2 linked regions of the Homo sapiens genome follow. The protein of the gene in region 1 interacts with the protein of each later gene in a pairwise test. Each region holds a gene or a part of one and is shown in the gene's direction. Other genes may lie near its edges. The genes, in order: CPNE7 and PBX4.

What was found.
Region 2: the proteins of CPNE7 (region 1) and PBX4 interact in binary tests that used the Homo sapiens proteins (3 or more experiments, as listed by UniProt).

Annotation. Positions count from the first base shown.
Region 1 is NC_000016.10:89,584,664-89,593,985, forward strand, and holds part of CPNE7 (copine-7), read left to right. Parts: intron 1-110; coding exon 111-194; intron 195-800; coding exon 801-890; intron 891-1,023; coding exon 1,024-1,122; intron 1,123-2,006; coding exon 2,007-2,093; intron 2,094-2,379; coding exon 2,380-2,439; intron 2,440-2,892; coding exon of another isoform or gene 2,893-2,931; exon of another isoform or gene 2,932-4,011; coding exon 4,012-4,145; intron 4,146-5,233; coding exon 5,234-5,288; intron 5,289-6,343; coding exon 6,344-6,395; intron 6,396-6,463; coding exon 6,464-6,597; intron 6,598-7,534; coding exon of another isoform or gene 7,535-7,537; exon of another isoform or gene 7,538-9,301; intron 9,302-9,322. UniProt on the Homo sapiens protein: Calcium-dependent phospholipid-binding protein that may play a role in calcium-mediated intracellular processes.
Region 2 is NC_000019.10:19,593,636-19,602,957, reverse strand, and holds part of PBX4 (pre-B-cell leukemia transcription factor 4), read left to right. Parts: intron 1-3,589; exon of another isoform or gene 3,590-3,592; coding exon 3,593-3,666; intron 3,667-9,322.

The DNA of each region.
Region 1 (9,322 bases):
GAATTAGCGGCTGGTGGCATGAAGTGAGCCCTGGGAAACGACAAAGCCAGCTCCCATCCAAAGCCCGATCTCACAGTGCCTGGCCCAGCAGCCCTTGTGCCTCTCCCCAGGACCTCTTCAGCAAGTCCGACCCCTTCCTGGAGCTCTACAGGGTCAACGACGACCAGGGCTTGCAGCTGGTGTACAGGACGGAGGTGAGCGGCCGGGGATGGGAACACAGGGAGGGGAAGGGGCTGTCCCCAGCCCTCACGCATCTCTGGCCACATGGGAGGAGCTCCCAGCCTCCAACAGGGAGCTGTGGGCGCAGGGCTTTGGTGGCTGTGGCTATGGCCAGAATCCAACAGGGAGCCGCAGGCGCAGGGCCCTGGGGGCCGTGGCTGTGGCCAGAATCCAGCAGGCTTGTGTAGTCGTGGCTGTGATTATTTTTAGACCTACCTTCCACTTCCTGCAGGTGAAATGGGATTTCAGCGACGGCAGGGAGAGAGTGCTTTCTTTTGAGAGAAATTAACTTGAGTGAAAATGAATCTATTTAAGGAAGAGAGCAGCGCAGGTGGCTCAGAGGTGGCAGAAGTTACGAAGGTGGAGGCACAGGGCTCGGAAATGTGTCTCCCGGGTCCTCACATGGCTTCGTGCAGGGAGTGGGTGCCAGCCCCAGCTCAGGGCCCCGGCGCTGTCTGGGGTGATGCAGGGGCAGGGCCAGCTGTGCCCGCCTCACAGCTGCTCTTCCACCCAGGTCTCTATCCCCCCCAAGGATCCCAGGGCCCTGGGCCTCCCCTGAGCCAGCCCCTCCCGGCCCACAGGTGGTGAAGAACAACCTGAACCCGGTGTGGGAGGCCTTCAAAGTCTCTCTGAGTTCCCTCTGCAGCTGCGAGGAGACAAGGCCTCTAAAGGTGGGGGACGGGATGGACCAAGGGGGCAGTGAGGGGGTGGCCTGGATGTGGGCTGCGATGGAGACACCTGGGCTCGGGTGGGAGGGTCCTGGGGCCCCCAGACAGCAGTGCTGAGGAGGACTGGGCTCCCCAGTGCCTGGTCTGGGATTACGACTCTCGAGGAAAGCACGACTTCATCGGAGAATTCTCTACCACCTTCGAGGAGATGCAGAAGGCCTTTGAGGAGGGGCAGGTGAGCAGGACGGGGTAGGGGGTCCTCCAGGGAGGGTCAGGTGGGGGTGGAGGGGGGCCTTCGGGGAGGGGTAGGTGAGCAGGACTGGGGGGGTACCTCCAGGAAGTGTCAGGTGAGGAGGTGGGGGGTGGGGTAGGGGCCTCCGTGGAGGGGCATGTGGGTGGGCACCTCTGGGGAGGAGCAGGTTGGGGGGGCCTTTGGGGAGGTTCAGGTGAGGGGGGCCTCCAGGGAGGGGCAGTTAGCAGGGGGAGGGGGCATTCAGGGAGGGGCAGGTGAGGGGGGCCTCTGGGGAGGGGCAGGTGAGTCGGGGGCACACCTGGGCTACGCCTGTGTTGGCCCTGCCACAGAGGCTGTGAAACCCTGTCCCACTGTCCTGATGGGGTTGTGGGGAGTGGTGACAATGACTTGTTATAACCAGAGAAGGCTGAGGATGGTGGACCCTGGTGCTGGCTCCTGAGGGGTCATAGCAGGGGTGGCCCCCATCAGGTTCAGCTGGACATTTCAGGCACCATCTGGGTCTGGGCACAGGGGTGGTGGGAGGTGGGGCCAAGGGGTGCCCTCCCCTGTGTCTGCCCAGCCCACAGCAGCCGGGTGAGGGTGCAGTGGGGAGGCCACCCTGGGCCCTGCTTCCTCCCCCGTCCCTGGGCCTCAGTGTCCTTGGGCTTAATGACAGGGCCATGCCGGGTGGGGGATGCAACTCCCATCCCTCTTCATTCCCGTATGACCCACTCTGCCCCTTCCTGCTGCCCTGCAGCAGTGCCCTCCCCTCCCCTCCCCACCACGGGGCCCTCTGCCGTCGCTATTGGGGATGGTCTTGGGTAGGGTCTCCCTGGTAGGTGTTCAGAGCCACCACTCTGGGGGGCCTCTGCTTGTTCCTGCCCCAGGCCCAGTGGGACTGTGTGAACCCCAAATACAAGCAGAAGAGACGCAGTTATAAGAACTCAGGAGTGGTCGTCCTGGCTGACCTCAAGGTGAGAGGTGGCTGTGCCCGAAGCCTCCCCACCCACAAGAGGGGCTTCCGCTGCCTCCCTCTGATTGTTGGATGGACCCTCAACCAGAGGCCTGGTGGGCCCCAGCACGTCTGGGGAGGGGCTGAGAGACGGGGAAGGGCGAGGTTGGGGAGAGAGGATGGGGGAGAGGAGAGGAGGGTGGCACCCCAGAGGGACTGGGCTGCCTGCGGGAGGCAGGCCTGGATCCCAGCTGGCACTGGCCTCAGTGTCCCTGGCGGGGGTGGACGCTGACTCCGCCGGCCGGAAGTTCCACAGGGTGTACTCCTTCCTGGACTATATCATGGGCGGCTGCCAGATCCACTTCACCGTGAGTCCATGGCCCCGCCCCATGCCGCCCCCTCAGTCCGTGGCCCCGCCCCGCCCCGCCCCCTCAGTCCGTGGCCCCGCCCCTCCCCGCCCCCTCAGTCTGTGGCCCCGCCCATCCCCGCCCCCTCAGTCCGTGGCCCCGCCCCTCCCGCCCCCTCAGTCTGTGGCCCCGCCCATCCCCGCCCCCTCAGTCTGTGGCCCCGCCCATCCCCGCCCCCTCAGTCCGTGGCCCCGCCCCCGCCCCCGCCCCCGCCCCGCTCCCGAGGGGTCCCAGCCTGGCGGGTGAAAGGGCACTGGCGGTTCCCCGTGAGCCGATGTCTCCATGCGCGGCTCCTGGGGGTCCTCCCTTTTGCGCAGGCGAGGAAACGGGCTTGGGGTTCAGGAAGCAGCCCCAAGCCCGCCTTGGGAGGTGACATCACCAGGGCTTACCTTCCACAAACACATTTAACAACAGACAAAACGTGAACGAGGAGAAACTGGAGTGAGCGTTTGAGTGAACCAGCCACAGTCTCTACGTGTCATCCAAGGAGCCCGGCACAGACCCCGTGTCACCCCCATGTCACCCGCAGACCCCGCGTCACCCATAGATACGCACACCCCGTGTCACCCCCATAGCACCCCCGTGTCACCCACAGATACACGGCCCCCGTGTCACCCGCGTGTCACCCACAGAAACACGGCCCCCGTGTCACCCACAGATACACGGCCCCCCGTGTCACCCGCGTGTCACCCACAGATACACGGCCCCCGTGTTACCCACAGATACACGGCCCCCCGTGTCACCCGCGTGTCACCCACAGATACACGGCCCCCGTGTCACCCGCGTGTCACCCACAGATACACGGCCCCCCGTGTTACCCACAGATACACGGCCCCCGTGTCACCCACAGATACACGGCCCCCCGTGTTACCCACAGATACACGGCCCCCCGTGTCACCCGCGTGTCACCCACAGATACACGGCCCCCCGTGTTACCCACAGATACACGGCCCCCGTGTCACCCACAGATACACGGCCCCCGTGTCACCCGCGTGTCACCCACAGATACACGGCCCCCGTGTCACCCGCGTGTCACCCACAGATACACGGCCCCCGTGTCACCCGCGTGTCACCCACAGATACACGGCCCCCGTGTCACCCGCGTGTTATTTGCAGATGCGCTGGTTCGTGTTTTGTTGAACGAGCCCCAGAATGGCTTTGGGAGAAGCCAGCAAGTGGGAAACGTGGGGGGACCCAGACCAGGCTTGGTCCACTTAGGCCCTGCCGGGGAGGGTGGTAGAGGGGTTGGGCGGCCACTAAGAAGGATGGGCGGGGCCCCCACAAGGCCAGGGTGATCCTGGTGGGGTGTCCTCCCGGAGATCCAGGGAGCCTAGGGGCTGGCAGGTTTTGAGGAGACCTCTCCTGGCCCTGTGTAGCAGGTGGGTCAGCCCCAACAGCAGCCCCCCAGCCCTACCCACCTACGCGACCCCTGACCCTGAGTCCTGGCCACTCTGGGCGTGGTTTCTCTACCTGTCAGGAGCGGGTTCGGGGAGCCCCGGCCCAGCACAGCTCCTGGCTCCCGGCCCACTGCAGGTGGCCATTGACTTCACCGCCTCCAATGGAGACCCGCGGAACAGCTGCTCCCTGCACTACATCAACCCCTACCAGCCGAACGAGTACCTGAAGGCACTGGTGTCCGTGGGCGAGATCTGCCAGGACTATGACAGGTGCGCCCACCACCTTCCCCTCACCCCCTGGTCTCCAGGTCAGCTATGACAGGTGCGCCTGGCCGTCTTCCCCCTCACCCCCCTGGTCTCCAGGTCAGCTATGACAGGTGCACCCGGCCGGTTTTCCCTCACCCCCCTGGGCTCCAGGTCAGGCCTCGGGGCACCATGAGGTGGGCACTGTGAGTTTGTCAGACTGTGAGGGGCCGGGCGCGGTAGCTCATGCCTGTAATCCCAGCATTTTGGGAGGCCGAGGCGGGTGGATCACCTGAGGTCAGGAGTTTGAGACCAGCCTGGCCAACATGGTGAAACCCCATCTCTACTGAAAATACAAAAATTAGCTGGGCGTGGTGGCAGATGCCTGTAATCCCAGCTACTCAGGAGGCTGAGGCAGGAGAATCACTGGAACCCGGGAGGCGGAGGTTACAGTGAGTCAAGATCACACCTTTGTACTCAAGCCTGGGTGACAGAGCAAGACTCCGTCTCAAAAAAAAGAGACTCTGCGAGGAAGGGCTGGGTAGCCCTACTGGAGGCTGCCGCATAGACTCTGCACATGGTCCTGGGGGGACGTCTGTGTCCCGCTTTGCCAGAATAGCAAACCGAAGTCACAGAGGCTTGGGGCTCACCCGCGTATGCTTTACCAGGGAGGGCCCGGCACAAAACCCTGTGCTCTGAGCTTCTTACCACAACACAGACCCCTGGCCTGGGGCTTGGGAGAGGATGCCCTGAGCTCCCTACCCTACAGACCTCTCTTTCTGGGTTGGTGAGGGCCACAGTGGGTTCCTTGGCCCCACAGGACCCCTCCCGTGGTCTGAGAGCCCCCGGGGAGGCGTCTGCAGGGGGACAGCATGTACACAAACGTGGAGTTGGGAGGCAGGCTCGCGGGCGGCAGGACCGTGTCCCCTTGCACACAGGCCTGTGCCTCTGCTGCCCTGAGCCTCGGTTCCCCACCTCTGGCAGGTGCTTACTGCCGTGGTACCAGGCCTGGGCACCCCCAGTCTTTTGGGCGCCAGTCATGTCTCCCTAGAAGTGGCCCCTGTTGCAGCCACAAGAGGTCAGGGCCTCCTGGTGACCTCCTGCCTCTCTTCCAGTGACAAGAGGTTTTCCGCTTTGGGGTTTGGAGCCCGGATCCCTCCCAAGTATGAGGTAGGAGAGCCCAGAACCTGAGACCTCAGAGCTGTGCCCTTCTCGTGCCCTCCCAGGCAGAGGACGGCCTGGCCCAGGGAGCCCTGGCTGCCTGCTGGGAACCGGAGACTGTAGGATGGGATTGGGGTGCAAAGCGGGAACCCCAGCCTTCTAGCCAGAGAGGCTGGCCTTTGGCCTCCTAGGACTTGTTAGCTTGAGGGGTGTCTGGAGGCCAACTCCGTGTTCCTTCAGGAGATAGGGAAGGACGTTAGTGTGGAATCCTCTATTGCACATAACAATTCAGCTAGCTTCGGCCAGGCGTGGTGGCTCACGCCTGTAATCCCAGCACTTTGGGAGGCCGAGGCGGGCCGATTACCTGAGGTCAGGAGTTCCAGACCAGCCTGGCCATCATGGTGAAACCCCATCTCTACCAAAAATACAAAAATTAGCTGGGCGTGGTGGCACATGCTTGTAATCCCAGCTACTCGGGAGGCTGAAGCAAGAGAATTGCTTGAACCCGGGAGGCAGAGGTTGCACTGAGCTGAGATCGCACCACTGCAGTCCAGCCTGGCCTGTAGAGCAAGACTCTGTTTTAAAAAAGAAAAAAGAAAACAACAAAAAACTTCAACTGGCTTCAGCAGAAAAAATGGTGTGTGGGGATTTATTGGCTAATGTAAGCCTCAGGCACTGCTGGATCCAGGGAGGTCTGCCTCCCTCTCTGTTTCATGACTCTGCAGAACATGGTCACCCATGGGTTTGGCTTCCCCTAGAAACTCCAAGCCTACCTCTCTCAGTAGGTGGGGGACATGGGGGCCAGGTCGGGGGAGCAGCTGACTGGGGGACATGGGGGCCGGGGACGGGGGGAGCAGCTGACTGGGGGACATGGGGGCCGGGGACGGGGGGAGCAGCTGACCGAGCCCTCTTTAGTAGGCGGGGGACATGAGGGCGGGGACGGGGGGAGCAGCTGACTGGGGGACATGGGGGCTGGGGACGGGGGGAGCAGCTGACCGAGGGACATGGGGCCAGTGGGGTGTGTTGCAACGAGCAGCTGACTGAGCCCTCTTGTTCCCACCCAGGTGTCCCATGACTTTGCCATCAATTTCAACCCTGAGGACGATGAGTGTGAAGGTAGGAGCTCGAGGCAGGCCTGGGGAGGGGAGTGCAGGGGGGCCGGGCTCACCCCCTGCCCCCCACAGGCATCCAGGGCGTGGTGGAGGCCTACCAGAACTGCCTGCCCAGGGTCCAGCTCTACGGCCCCACCAACGTGGCGCCCATCATCTCCAAGGTGGCACGCGTGGCGGCGGCCGAGGAGAGCACCGGGAAAGCCTCTGTAGGTGCCCGGGGGGTGTGGTGCATGCTTGGTGTGGGGTCGGCTGTGTGTGCACCAGCGCGTGGACGTCAGGGAGGCACCTGGCAGAGGGAACAGCCAGCGCAGAGGCCCCCAGGCAGGACAGAGCTCAGGAGGGCGGGGGCCCAGCTGGTTGACTACGTCTCCCTCAAAGGTGCAGGTGTCTCGGGCACAGGGCTGTCCATCGCCTCACACGGTCACGGCCATGGCTGCAGCGAGGCTGCCCCTCTCCTCTTCCTCTGGGCACCACAAGGCCGCGCACATGTCTACTGTTTGGCTGTGTGTGTATCGTCATTTTGTTTACATGTGTCTTTCCTTTGCACAAATGATACGGTGCCGAGAACTGCACTGGATTCTACTCTGCCACCGTGTGGCCCTGTATGTGTCTCTGGGGCCACAGCCAGCCTGCTGCTTTCTTTTCTTTTCTTTTGTTTTTTGTGAGACAGAGTCTCACTCTGTCACCCAGGCTGGAGTGCAGTGATGTGATCCCAGCTCACTGCAACCTCTGCTTCCCGGGGTTCACGCCATTCTCCTGCCTCAGCCTCCCAAGGAGCTGGGACTACAGGCGCCCGCCACCACTTCTGGCTAATTTTTGTATTTTTAGTAGAGACGGGGTTTCACCCTGTTGGCCAAGCTGGTCTCAAACTCCTGACCTCATGATCCACCCGCCTCGGCCTCCCAAAGTGCTGGGATTACAGGCGTGAGCCACCGTGCCCGGCATTCTTTTTTTTGTTGTTTTTTTTTTTTGAGACGGAGTCTCGCTCTGTCACCCAGGCTGGAAGTGTAGTGGCGCAATCTCCGCTCACTGCAACCTCCCCCTCCCAGGTTCGCGCCATTCTCCTGCCTCAGCCTCCTAAGTAGCTGGGACTACAGGCGCCCACCATCATGCCCGGCTAATTTTTTTTTTTTGTATTTTTAGTAGAGACGGGGTTTCACCGTGTTAGCGAGGATGGTCTCGATCTCCTGACCTCGTGATCCACCCGCCTCGGCCTCCCAAAGTGCTGGGATTACAGGTGTGAGCCGCCGCGCCCGGCCCAAAATAATTTTAAACTCACCAAAAAGTTACAAGAGCTCTGAGGTCCTGCAACCCGTGAGGCCAACAGCTGCTCACACATTGCGCTCCTGCTTCACGTCTGTGTAGTTGTTGTATTTGTATGTTTTCTTTTTCAATTTTTTTTTTTTTTTTTGAGATAGAGTCCTGCTCTGTCACCCAAGCTGTAGTGGTGCAATCTCGGCTCACTGCAAGCTCCACCCTCCGAGTTCAAGCAATTCTCCTGCCTCAGCCTCCCGAGTAGCTGGGATTACAGGCTCCCGCCACCACGCCCGGCTAATTTTTTGTATTTTTAGTAGAGACGGGGTTTCACAGTCTTGGCCAGGCTGGTCTTAAACTCCTGACCTTGTGATCCACCCGCCTCGGCCTCCCAAAGTGCTGGGATTACAGGAGTGAGCCACCGCGCCCAGCCCAAATTTTTTTTATTGTGATAAAATATGCACAGTTTAAAATTTACCATTGTAACCATTTTTTTCTTTTCTTTTTTTTTTTTTTTTTTTGAGATGGAGTTTTACTCTTGTCACCCAGGCTGGAGTGCAGTGACGTGATCTCGGCTCACTGCAAGCTCCGCCTCCCGGGTTCACGCCATTCTCCTGACTCAGCCTCCTGAGTAGCTGGGAGTACAGGCGCCCGCCACCATACCCGGCTAATTTTTATATTTTTGTAGAGATGGGGTTTCACTGTCTTGGCCAGGCTGGTCTCAAACTCCTGACCTCAAGTGATCTGCCTGCCTCAGCCTCCCAAAGTGCTGGGATGGGATTACAGGTGTGAGCCGCCGCACCTGGCCTGTAACCATTTTATTGTATCCAGTTCAGAGGCACGAGGTACATTCATGATGATCAAACATCACCCGTCTACTTACATCTTCAAGCCAAATGGGAACCCTATATCTGTTTGCATCTATTTTTAATTTATACAGATAGTATCGTGATAAAGACTTTGATGCTTTTTAAAAAACTTGGCACTGCACACACACATTTGTGAACCGTCCGAGAGCACGTTGCAACATCACGGTTTTACCTCTTAATATTTTTTTTTTTTTGAGATGGAGTCTCGCTCTTCACCCAGGCTGGAGTGCAGTGGCGCGATCTTGGTTCACTGCAAGCTCCGCCTCCCGGGTTCACGCCATTCTCCTGCCTCAGCCTCCCAAATAGCTGGGACTACAGGCGCCCGCCACCACGCCCGGCTAATTTTTTGTATTTTTAGTAGAGACGGGGTTTCACTGTGTTAGCCAGGATGGTCTCGATCTCCTGACCTCGTGATCCGCCCACCTCGGCCTCCCAAAGTGCTGGGATTACAGGCGTGAGCCACCGCGCCCGGCCTACCTCTTACTATTTCAGTGTATATTTCCTAAGATCAAAGATATTCTCTTGTATAACCATAGCACAAATACAGATTTCAGGAAATTGAATTTAGATACAATCCTTTTATCTAATACATAGACTATATTCCAATTTCATTCATTGGCACAATCATAACTTTCAAAGCAGTATTGTTCCTGGCCCAGGAGCCAGTCCGGAGTCGAGGATTGCGTTCAGCTGTTATGTTCCTGTGTGGCTGGGAAGCGGGTCTCAGACGGTTTCATCTGTAAATGTCAGTATCAGCGTCTAATAAAGATAAGCCTCTTTTTAAGCAGCCACGACACCTGATCACACC
Region 2 (9,322 bases), on another chromosome or scaffold:
TCAGTACCTGGCCCTGGGGTGATTTAGGGCTGGGAAATTATTGGCTTTGTGTGTGAGCATTAAATGAAGAAGATGATTGGGAATGTGGGCTTTTGATTGGTTGATTTGCATATGAATGGCATGTTCTTTGGCAAGTTGTTTGCTGTCTGTAGTAATAAGCTAGCCCTGGGAAGGGCAGTCACTCCAAGCCCCACAATGTCAAAGCAAGATAAAAAAAAAACATAATTAATAGTCCAGGCTCATGCCTATAATCCCAATACTTTGAGGGGCCAAGGCGGGGGGATCTCTTGAGTCTAGGAGTTCAAGAACAGCCTGGGCAATATAGTGAGACTTAAGCTCTGCAAAAACATTTTTTAAAAATTAGCCAGGCATGGTAGCACCACCCGTAGTCCCAGCTACTCAGGAGCTGAGGCGGGAGGATTGCTTGAGTTCGGGCACAGCATGGCCACTGCAGTCCAGCCTGGGCAACAGAGTAAGACCCTGTCTCAAAAAGAAAAAGAAAAAAAACATGATTAACACACACCCTGTCTTTTAGCACCTGTTATGTTTGTTTGATCTCCCTTATGATAAACATCAAAGACTTTGTGATTGCTGCTTCCGCTTCCTCCTCACCTCCACATTCTCTCCCAACCTTGTTCCCTCTCCGCTGAGTCACCTATGACCTTCATGTTGCTAAATCCGAATTCTCTTTATTCATTTATTTATTTATTTATTAGAGACAGGTTCTTGCTATGTTGCCTAGACTGGTCCTCCCACCTCAGCCTCCCATAGTGCTGAGATTACAGGCGTGAGCTACCGTGCCCAGCCTCAGATTCTCTTCTGGGTTCTTATTCTGCTTGATCTCTCAGCAGCATTTCTCACAGATTACTCTTCTCTCCATGAAATTCTTCTCTTGGCTGAGCGCAGCCTGGGCAACATAACGAGACCCTGTCTCTACAACAAATACAGAATTTAGCCAGGTGTGTTGGTGCGTGCCTCTTGTCCCAGCTCATTGTCTCGCCATGTTGCCCAGGCTGGTCTCAAACTCCTGAGCTCCAGCGATCTGCCTGCCTCGGCCTCCCAAAATGCTAGAATTACAGGCATGAGCCACCGATTTTACATTTCGGTAGGTCAGAAAGCCCACATGGGCACAGTGGGCTAAAATCAAGGTGTTGCCCAGTGAGCCCATGGGCTGGTTCCTTGCCTTTTCCAGCCTGTTGAGGCCACCTGCATTCCTTGCTCATGGTCCCTTCCTCCATGATCAAGGCCAGCAACATAGTATCTCTCCAACCCTTACATCATCATGACTTTCTCTGCCCACATCTGGGAAAGGTTCTCTACCTTTAAGGGTCATGTGATGACAGTAGGCCCCCCCAGATAATCCGGGTTAATCTCTCCATCTCAAGGTCCTTAAACTTAATTACATTGGCAGAATTATTTTTCCCATTTTTTGTAAAGTACCATATTTAGGGTTCTGAGGATAAGCATGTGGACCCTTTTGGGAGCCATTATCCTGCCAACCATAGTTCCCAACCCAAGCAAGCAAAAGCCAGAGTTGTCCCCATGACTTTCAAGGCCCTTAGAGTCAATCTCCACTTGCCAGTCTAACTTCTCGTAGCTCTCTCCCTCACCCCTAACACTCAGCAGCCTGGTCTCAAACAGCCAGTACTGAACCCAGTGTGTTCTCACAGGGCCTTTGTGCTTGGCTGTTTCTTCTGCCTAAACCATACCTCTCTCCAGTCCTTTTCTTGGTTGATTTCTCCTTCTCATTCTGATCTCAGCTTTGATGTCACCTCAGAGACATGGAAATTCCAAAAAGCCTTCTAACCATCACTGTCATGTGACCCCAGTTGCCCCAGAGCAACTGCCACGGCTGATGGGTTTCTTGTTGGTGTGTATTTTTGGTGTCTCACTCCCTCCCTCTTAACTGCCACATGTGTAAAAACCTTACCTGTCTGTGTCTCTGATGCCAGAATGGTGTGTGGCACATAGTAGGTACTCAGTAAACACCTGCCAAGTGACACTGGAAGAGGATGATTGGTGCTTCTGCTTAGGCACCAGGATACACCACTGCAGGACCATAGTGTGAACACAGATTTCAAGTTGTTGGACCTTGATATTTCATAGTTCTTTTTTTTTCTTTCTTTTTTTTTTTTTTTTTTGAGATGGAGTCTCTCTCTGTTGCCCAGGCTGGAGTTCACTGGTGCGATCTCAGCTCACTGCAACCTCTGCCTCCCTGGTTCAAGCAATTCTCCTGTGTCAGCCTCCCGAGTAGCTGGGATTACAGGTGTGCACCACCACGCCCAGCTTTTTTGTACTTTTAGTAGAGACGGGGTTTCACCATGTTGGCCAGGCTGGTCTCAAATTCCTGACCTCAGGCGATCCATCCGCCTCGGCCGCCCAAAGTGCTGGGATTACAGGCATGAGCCACTGCCTCTGGCCTTTTTTTTTTTTTCTTAATGACAAGGCCTCTGTTATGCTGGCTGGAGTACAGTGGCATGTTCATAGCTCACTACAGCCTCTAACTCATGGTCTCAAGCCATCCTCCTGTCTCAGCCTCCTGAGGGATTGGGACTACAGGCATACCACCATGCCCAGCTAATTTTTAAATTTTTGAAGAGAATGGGTCTCACCATGTTGCCCAGGCCGATCTTAAATTTCTGGGCTCAAGTGGTCCTCCTGCCTTGGCCTCCCAAAGCGTTGAGATTACAGACATGAGCCACTAATGCCTTACCATAGTTTTTGATGAGTTATTTGCATTGTTTAAACTTTTGCATATAGTGGGAAATGTTTTGAATATTTGTATATTGCTTTACATTATTATTATTATTATTATTGAGACAGAGTCTCACTCTATTGCCTGGGCTGGAGTACAGTGGCACAATCTTGGCTCACTGCAACCTCTGCCTCCAAGGTTTAAGCATTTCTCCTGCCTCACCCACCTGAGTAGCTGGGATTACAGGTGCATGACACTGTTCCTGGCGAATTTTTTTTTTTTTTTTTTTTGAGATGGAGTCTCACTCTGTCACTTAGGCTGGAGTGCAGTGGCCTGATCTCGGCTCACTGCAACCTCTGCCTCCCGGGTCTAAGCAATTCTCCTGCCTCAGCCTCCTGAGTAACTGGGATTACAGGTGGGCACCACCATGCCCAACTAATTTTTGTATTTTTAGTAGAGACAGGGTTTCACCATGCTGGCCAGGCTGGTCTCGAACTCCTGACCTCAGGCAATCCGCCTGCCTTGGCCTCCCAAAGTTCTGGGATTATAGGCATGAGCCACTGTGCCTGGCCAAGTTTTGTATTTTTAATAGAGATAGGGTTTCACCATGCTGGCCAGGCTGGTCTCAAACTCCTGACCTCAAGTGATCCACCTGCCTCGACCTCCCAAAGTGCTGGGATTACAGGCGTGAGCCACCACGGCTGGCCTTTATATTGATTTTGTGCAAATCAAATTCACATGAAATATGATTGTACTGCATTTTCATAAGGCGACTTATCTACAGTCAGAGTGGCAGATCTCGTTTGGTTTGATTTCTCAGTATGGAAGATCTTTACTCTTGGGGACAAGATGATGACTATTCTTTTCTCACACCCTCCTCTGTCACCTCCCTTTCAGAAAGCATGCTCTGAATTGCCATCGGATGAAGCCTGCTCTGTTCAGCGTGCTCTGTGAGATCAAGGAAAAGACAGGTAGGCTGTTTAGAAGACACTTTCTGGCCGAGCGTGGTGGCTCATGCCTGTAATCCCAGCACATTGGGAGGCGGAGGCGGGCAGATCACCTGAGGCTGGATTCCAGACCAGCCTGACCAACATGGAGAAACCCTGTCTCTATTAAAAATACAAAAATTAGCCAGGCGTGGTGACGCATGCCGGTAATCCCAGCTACTCGGGGGGCTAAGGTAGGAGAATCGCTTGAACCTGGGAGGTGGAGGTTGCGGTGAGCCAAGATCGCGCCATTGCACTCCAGCCTGGGCAACAAGAGTGTGCGGTGAGCCAAGATCACGCCATTGCACTCCAGCCTGGGCAACAAGAGTGAAATTCTGTCTCAAAAAAAAAAAAAAAAAAAAAGGCACTTCCTGTGTGTGACTAGAGCTGCGGCAGCACACCTCTGATCTTGTCTCAGCCCTTATGTGCATGGTGGGCCGTTTTGCTCATCCCTTCTGTCTCGCAGAAGACGGCTAGGATGTTTTCTTTCTGCCTTATCATTGCCCTGGTTTCCAGTATGCACACTGATTTATTTTGTAGTTTATAACTGAGAAATACTGTTGCAAATCAGTAACAAGCAGCTGCATTCTAGGTCGAAGACCTAAGAGGTGCTTAGCATTCAGTCATATAGAAAAAGGAAAAATGACAGACTTAGGGAAATTGAATAAGAACAGTTTTGTCGGCTGGGCACAGTGGCTCATACCTGTAGTCCCAGTACTTTGGGAGGCCGAGGCAGGTGGATCACGAGGTCAGGTGTTCAAGACCAGCCTGGCCAAGATGGTGAAACCCCCATCTCTACTAAAAATACAAAATTAGCCAGGCATGGTGGCACATGCCTGTAATCCCAGCTACTTGGGAGGCTGAGGCAGGAGAATCACTTGAACCCAGGAGGTGGAGGTTGCAGTGAGCCGAGATCGCGCCATTGCACTCCAGCCTGGGCAAGAAGAGTAAGACTCCGTCTCAAAAAAAAAAAAAAAAAGGAAAGAAAAGAAAAAGAAAAGTTGAAAAAATAGTACAGAGAGTTCTCGTATCTCCTTCTCCGGGCTTCCTGTCTCGTCAACACCTTCAGAGCCATAGTACAAATATGGAAACCAGGAAATTACGCTGAGTACAATGATCTTTAACTGAACTACAGACCTCATTTGGAGTTCCCCAGTTTTTGCCCTAATGCCCTTTTCTGCCCTGAATCCCACGTTGTATTTAGTCATCATGTCTCTTTGGTCTCCTGTGATCTGTGACCTTGTCATCCATGAATGACGCTGACCATTTTAAGAAGCGCTCAGTCATTTTGTAGAACATCCCTCAGTGCGGTTTGTCTGATGTTTCCTCTAGATTGGACTGAAGTTGTGCATCTGTGGCCAGAGTCCCACAGAGGCAATGTGTGTGTCCTCAGCACATTGTGTCAGGGAAAACATGCTGTCAATATGTCCTGTCACTGCTACCATTGACCTTGATCACTTGGTCAAGGTTAATAACAATTTGAAAGTAGCTTATAAGTGGGGCCACCAAATAAGATGAAGATATTTAAACCAAGGGTCATCTGCACAACGTGTCACTTGATTTCTTAGAGTGAGTTGGTCTCTTGAGGTCAATTATTTGAATTTTGTGTGTCACTTTGGAGCATAGCACTTCATATTTGCTGAGGCTTGTGGAAAGTGTGTGTATATGTTGTACAAAAGTGTGCTTCTTTCTGAACACTGTTTTGGTGCAAGATTGATGTGTACTTGACATATATAGTAGTTGAGAACAGCAAGAGGGTCTGAATTCTGCCTCCACCTCTGGCTGCATGACCCTGGTCCTTGGCTGAACCTTTCTCTGTTCCTGGTCCTCCTCTGATTTGTGGGGCAATAATAATACTTAGCTCATGGTTACTGAGGACTGTTGAGGGCTGTGTGAATTCATATATGTAAGGCTGTGGGCATGGTGCCCAGCCTTCAGAAGAGATCTGGTGACTAAAGGAGAAATTCAAGTTTAAATCTACATTTAAGTTTCGCCTAAATGCTATGAGGACATGATGTCCCTAACCCTCCCCAGTGTAAATTTATTTTTATTTTTATTTTTTGGAGATGGAGTTTCACTCTTATTGCCCAGGCTGGAGTGCAATGGCACGATCTTGGCTCACTGCAATCTCCGCCTTCCAGGTTCAAGCAATTCTCCTGCCTCAGCCTCTGAGTAGCCGGGATTACAGGCGCCTGCCACCACACCCAGCTAATTTTTTGTATTTTTTATTAAAGATGGGGTTTCACCATGTTGGCCAGGCTGGTCTTGAACTCCTGACCTCAGGTGATCCGCCTGCCTGTCTGCCTCCCAAAGTGCTGGGATTACAGGCGTGAGCCATCACACCTGGCCTTTTTTTTTTTTTTTTGGAGACAGGGTCTCACTCTGTCACCCAGGCTGGAGGGCAGTGACATAATCTTGGCTCACTTCAGCCTCCTGGGTGGGTGATCCTCACACCCCATCCTCCCAAGTAGCTGGGACTACAGGCACGAGCCACGTTGCCCAGCTAATTTTTGTATTTTTTGTAGAGAGAGGGTTTTGTCATGTTGCCCAGGCTGGTCTCAAACTCCTGGCCTCCCAAAATGCTGGGATTATGTGTGTGAGCCACTGTGCCCAACCAGGCTCATATTCTGTTCTGCCTCTGCCTGCTTCACCCAATTCTCTAAGGAGCCCTGATTCCTTTCAGAGTAAATCTTGGCCTTTGATGTGCTCATTGCTGTTGGGGTGTTGCTGCTCTTGGACACTCTTAGGACACAGAGCTAAGGAATATTTGTGGGTTATTACAGATGCGTGTGTACACACACACACGTGCGCACACATTCACATCTGTTTTCCTATGTTTTTATATATTAAAAACCATGAGTTCATTATGATATCTTTATTTTTGTTTGTTTATTTATTTATTTATTTATTTATTCTCACTCTGTTGCCCAGCCTGGAGTGCAGTGGTGCAATCTCAGCCTCCCAGGTTCAAGCATTTCTCCTGCCTCAGCCTCTGAGTAGCTGGGATTATGGTGTGCACCACCACGCCTGGCTAATTTTGTATTTTTAGTAGAGACAGGGTTTCATCATGTTGGCCAGACTCGTCTCAAACTCCTGACCTCAAGTGACCTGCCCGCCTCAGCCTCCCAAAGTGCTGGGATTAGAGATGTGATCCACCGCACCCAGCTTATTTTTATTTTTGAGACAGGGTCTCACTCTGTCACCAGGCTGGAATGCAGTGGTGAAGTCACAGCTCATTGCAGCCTCAACCTCCTGGGCTCAAGCAATACTCCCACCTTGGCCTCCCAAAGTGCTGGGATTACATGCATGAGCCACTGTACCTGGCCCACTCCAATATCTTTAATTCTAGTTCACCACAGGGTTCCCACTATTTTTCTCTCTTCCCAGGTTTGTGACTCCTTCCTCCAACAGTGAGAGCCTGCTCCTGTTGTCCTCAGTACTTTTGCTTGTGTAATCAATCTCCCACCTCCTTCACCCCCAAGTATACTTAATCCCCCAGCCAAGCAGACCCCTCCTTGTCCCCACCCCCCAGCAGACTGCTGCTGCTGACAGCCCCCACATGATATGCCCCCTGTTGGTCTCCAACACCCAGTGCCAGGTCATCCTCCCGACGGGGCCAGATGCTGGGCTGTGATGCCCCTGGCTTCCTGCCCACCTCATATGCCTCTCATGGGTATGTAAATATCTGATGACCTGTCTTATCTGTTCCTTATTTAAATTGTGGGGAGCAGATGCCATGGAAATGGAAACACAAAGGTTAGGCTTTCCTGGGGAACCAGACACACAAGTTTCTTGTTAGCGGTGAACTGGTTTTAAGCAAATTTGCCCTCAACTCCCTGGCAGCACTCCCTGATGGTGCTTCAGCATTCGTGTGGTAAGCTGGACAAGCGGGGGCCCTGTACCCGAATGAGCCCCAAGTACTGCAGGCTGAGGGAAGCCGCTCAGAAGGACACAGCCAATGTGTATCCACCCCCTGGAGACACTGGCTGTGGTCACGTGTTTCTTAGTATTGTGGAATTGTGTAATGTTGGTCCCTTTCACTTTTCACCTAATAAAAATAAGCCAGTGTCAGGACCACTTGCTGAGGCATGTGTACCAATAGGCACAGGCAGCCCAAGTTGTCCCTTGCTCACCCCTGACCCTGACCCCAGGAAGCAGCCTTTGGGGGCTCCCCACTGCCCACAGCGGATGTTTAGCAATGCAACATCTGGAATTTAGTAATAATAAAAAACTATTTTAAAAAGTACTTTTTAAAGGCTGGGTGCGGTGGCTCACGCCTGTAATCCCAGCACTTTGGGAGGCCGAGGCAGTTGGACCACCTGAGATCAGGAGTTCGAGACCAGCCTGACCAACATGATGAAACCCCGTCTCTACTAAAAATACAAAAATTAGCTGGGCGTGGTGGCATGCGCCTGTAATCCCAGTTACTCAGGAGGCTGAGGCAGGAGTATCACTTGAACCCAGGAGGCAGAGGTTGCAGTGAGATGACATTGCGCCACTGCACTCCAGCCTGGGTGACAGAGTGAGACCCTGTCTAAAAAAAAAAAGTACTTTAATCAACTGTAGTCTCAGGAAGCTGTCATTCTTGACCTTCCTACCAGTGAGCTGCTGGGGCTGAACGAGAAACCAATTTTTGAGAGTGTGGGTGTTCAGCCTGGGCACGCCTCTTCATAATTCCATCTGCCCCTGTGTGGATGTTACTGCATGAGTCTGTTAGTCTCAAATTCAGCAGTTTCAGGAGGGAAAACAAGAGTTGATACCAACTGTTGCCAGTGCAGCTGAGATGTCTGTCCATTTCAACCGCTGGTGTCGCCCCACCTCCCTACCCCCATCTGCCTAGGCTTTGAGGGCCATGCTCAGGACTCTTTTTTTTTTTTTTTTAGACAGAGTTTCACTCTTGTTGCCTAGGCTGGAGTGCAATGGCGCAATCTCGGCTCACTGCCTCCCAGGTTCAAGCAATTTTCCTGCCTCAGCCTCCCGAGTAGTTGGGATTACAGGCATCTGCCACCACACCCGGCTAATTTTTTGTATTTAGTAGAGACAGGGTTTCACCCTGTTGGTCAGGCTGGTCTTGAACTCTTGACCTCAGGTGATCCGCCCGCCTCGGCCTCCCAAAGTGCTGGGATTACAGCCATGTGCCACCATGCCCGGCGACATTTTTAATTTTTTATTTTTTATTTTTTTTTTTTTTTAATTAAGACACAGAGTCTCACTGTGTTGCCCAGATTGGCTTCAAACTCCTGGGCTCAAGTGATCCTCACACCTCAGCTTCCGCACACACCACCATGTCTAGGGGTCGCTGAGGACTATTTTTGGGGGGATGAGGTCTTAGTATGTTGCCCAGGTTGGCCTTGAACTCCTGAGCTCAAGTGATCCTCCTGCCTCAGCCTCCCAAGGTGTGGGGTTACAGGCAGGCGCCACTGTGCCTGGCCACTCAGGACTTTTGATTCCTCCAAGCTGAGTCCCAAGGCCGCTGCAGGGCTCAGAGCACCGGCCACCTGGGCATTTCCTTGGAAGCTAATGCTTTCTTCCCACTGACTGGCTCAAACATCTGGGTACAGGGTATGTTTTGGGGTACAGTAGGACAGGGATGAGACAGCAACTGCTCCTCCCTGAAATGCACAAGCCTGGAGCTGAGGGA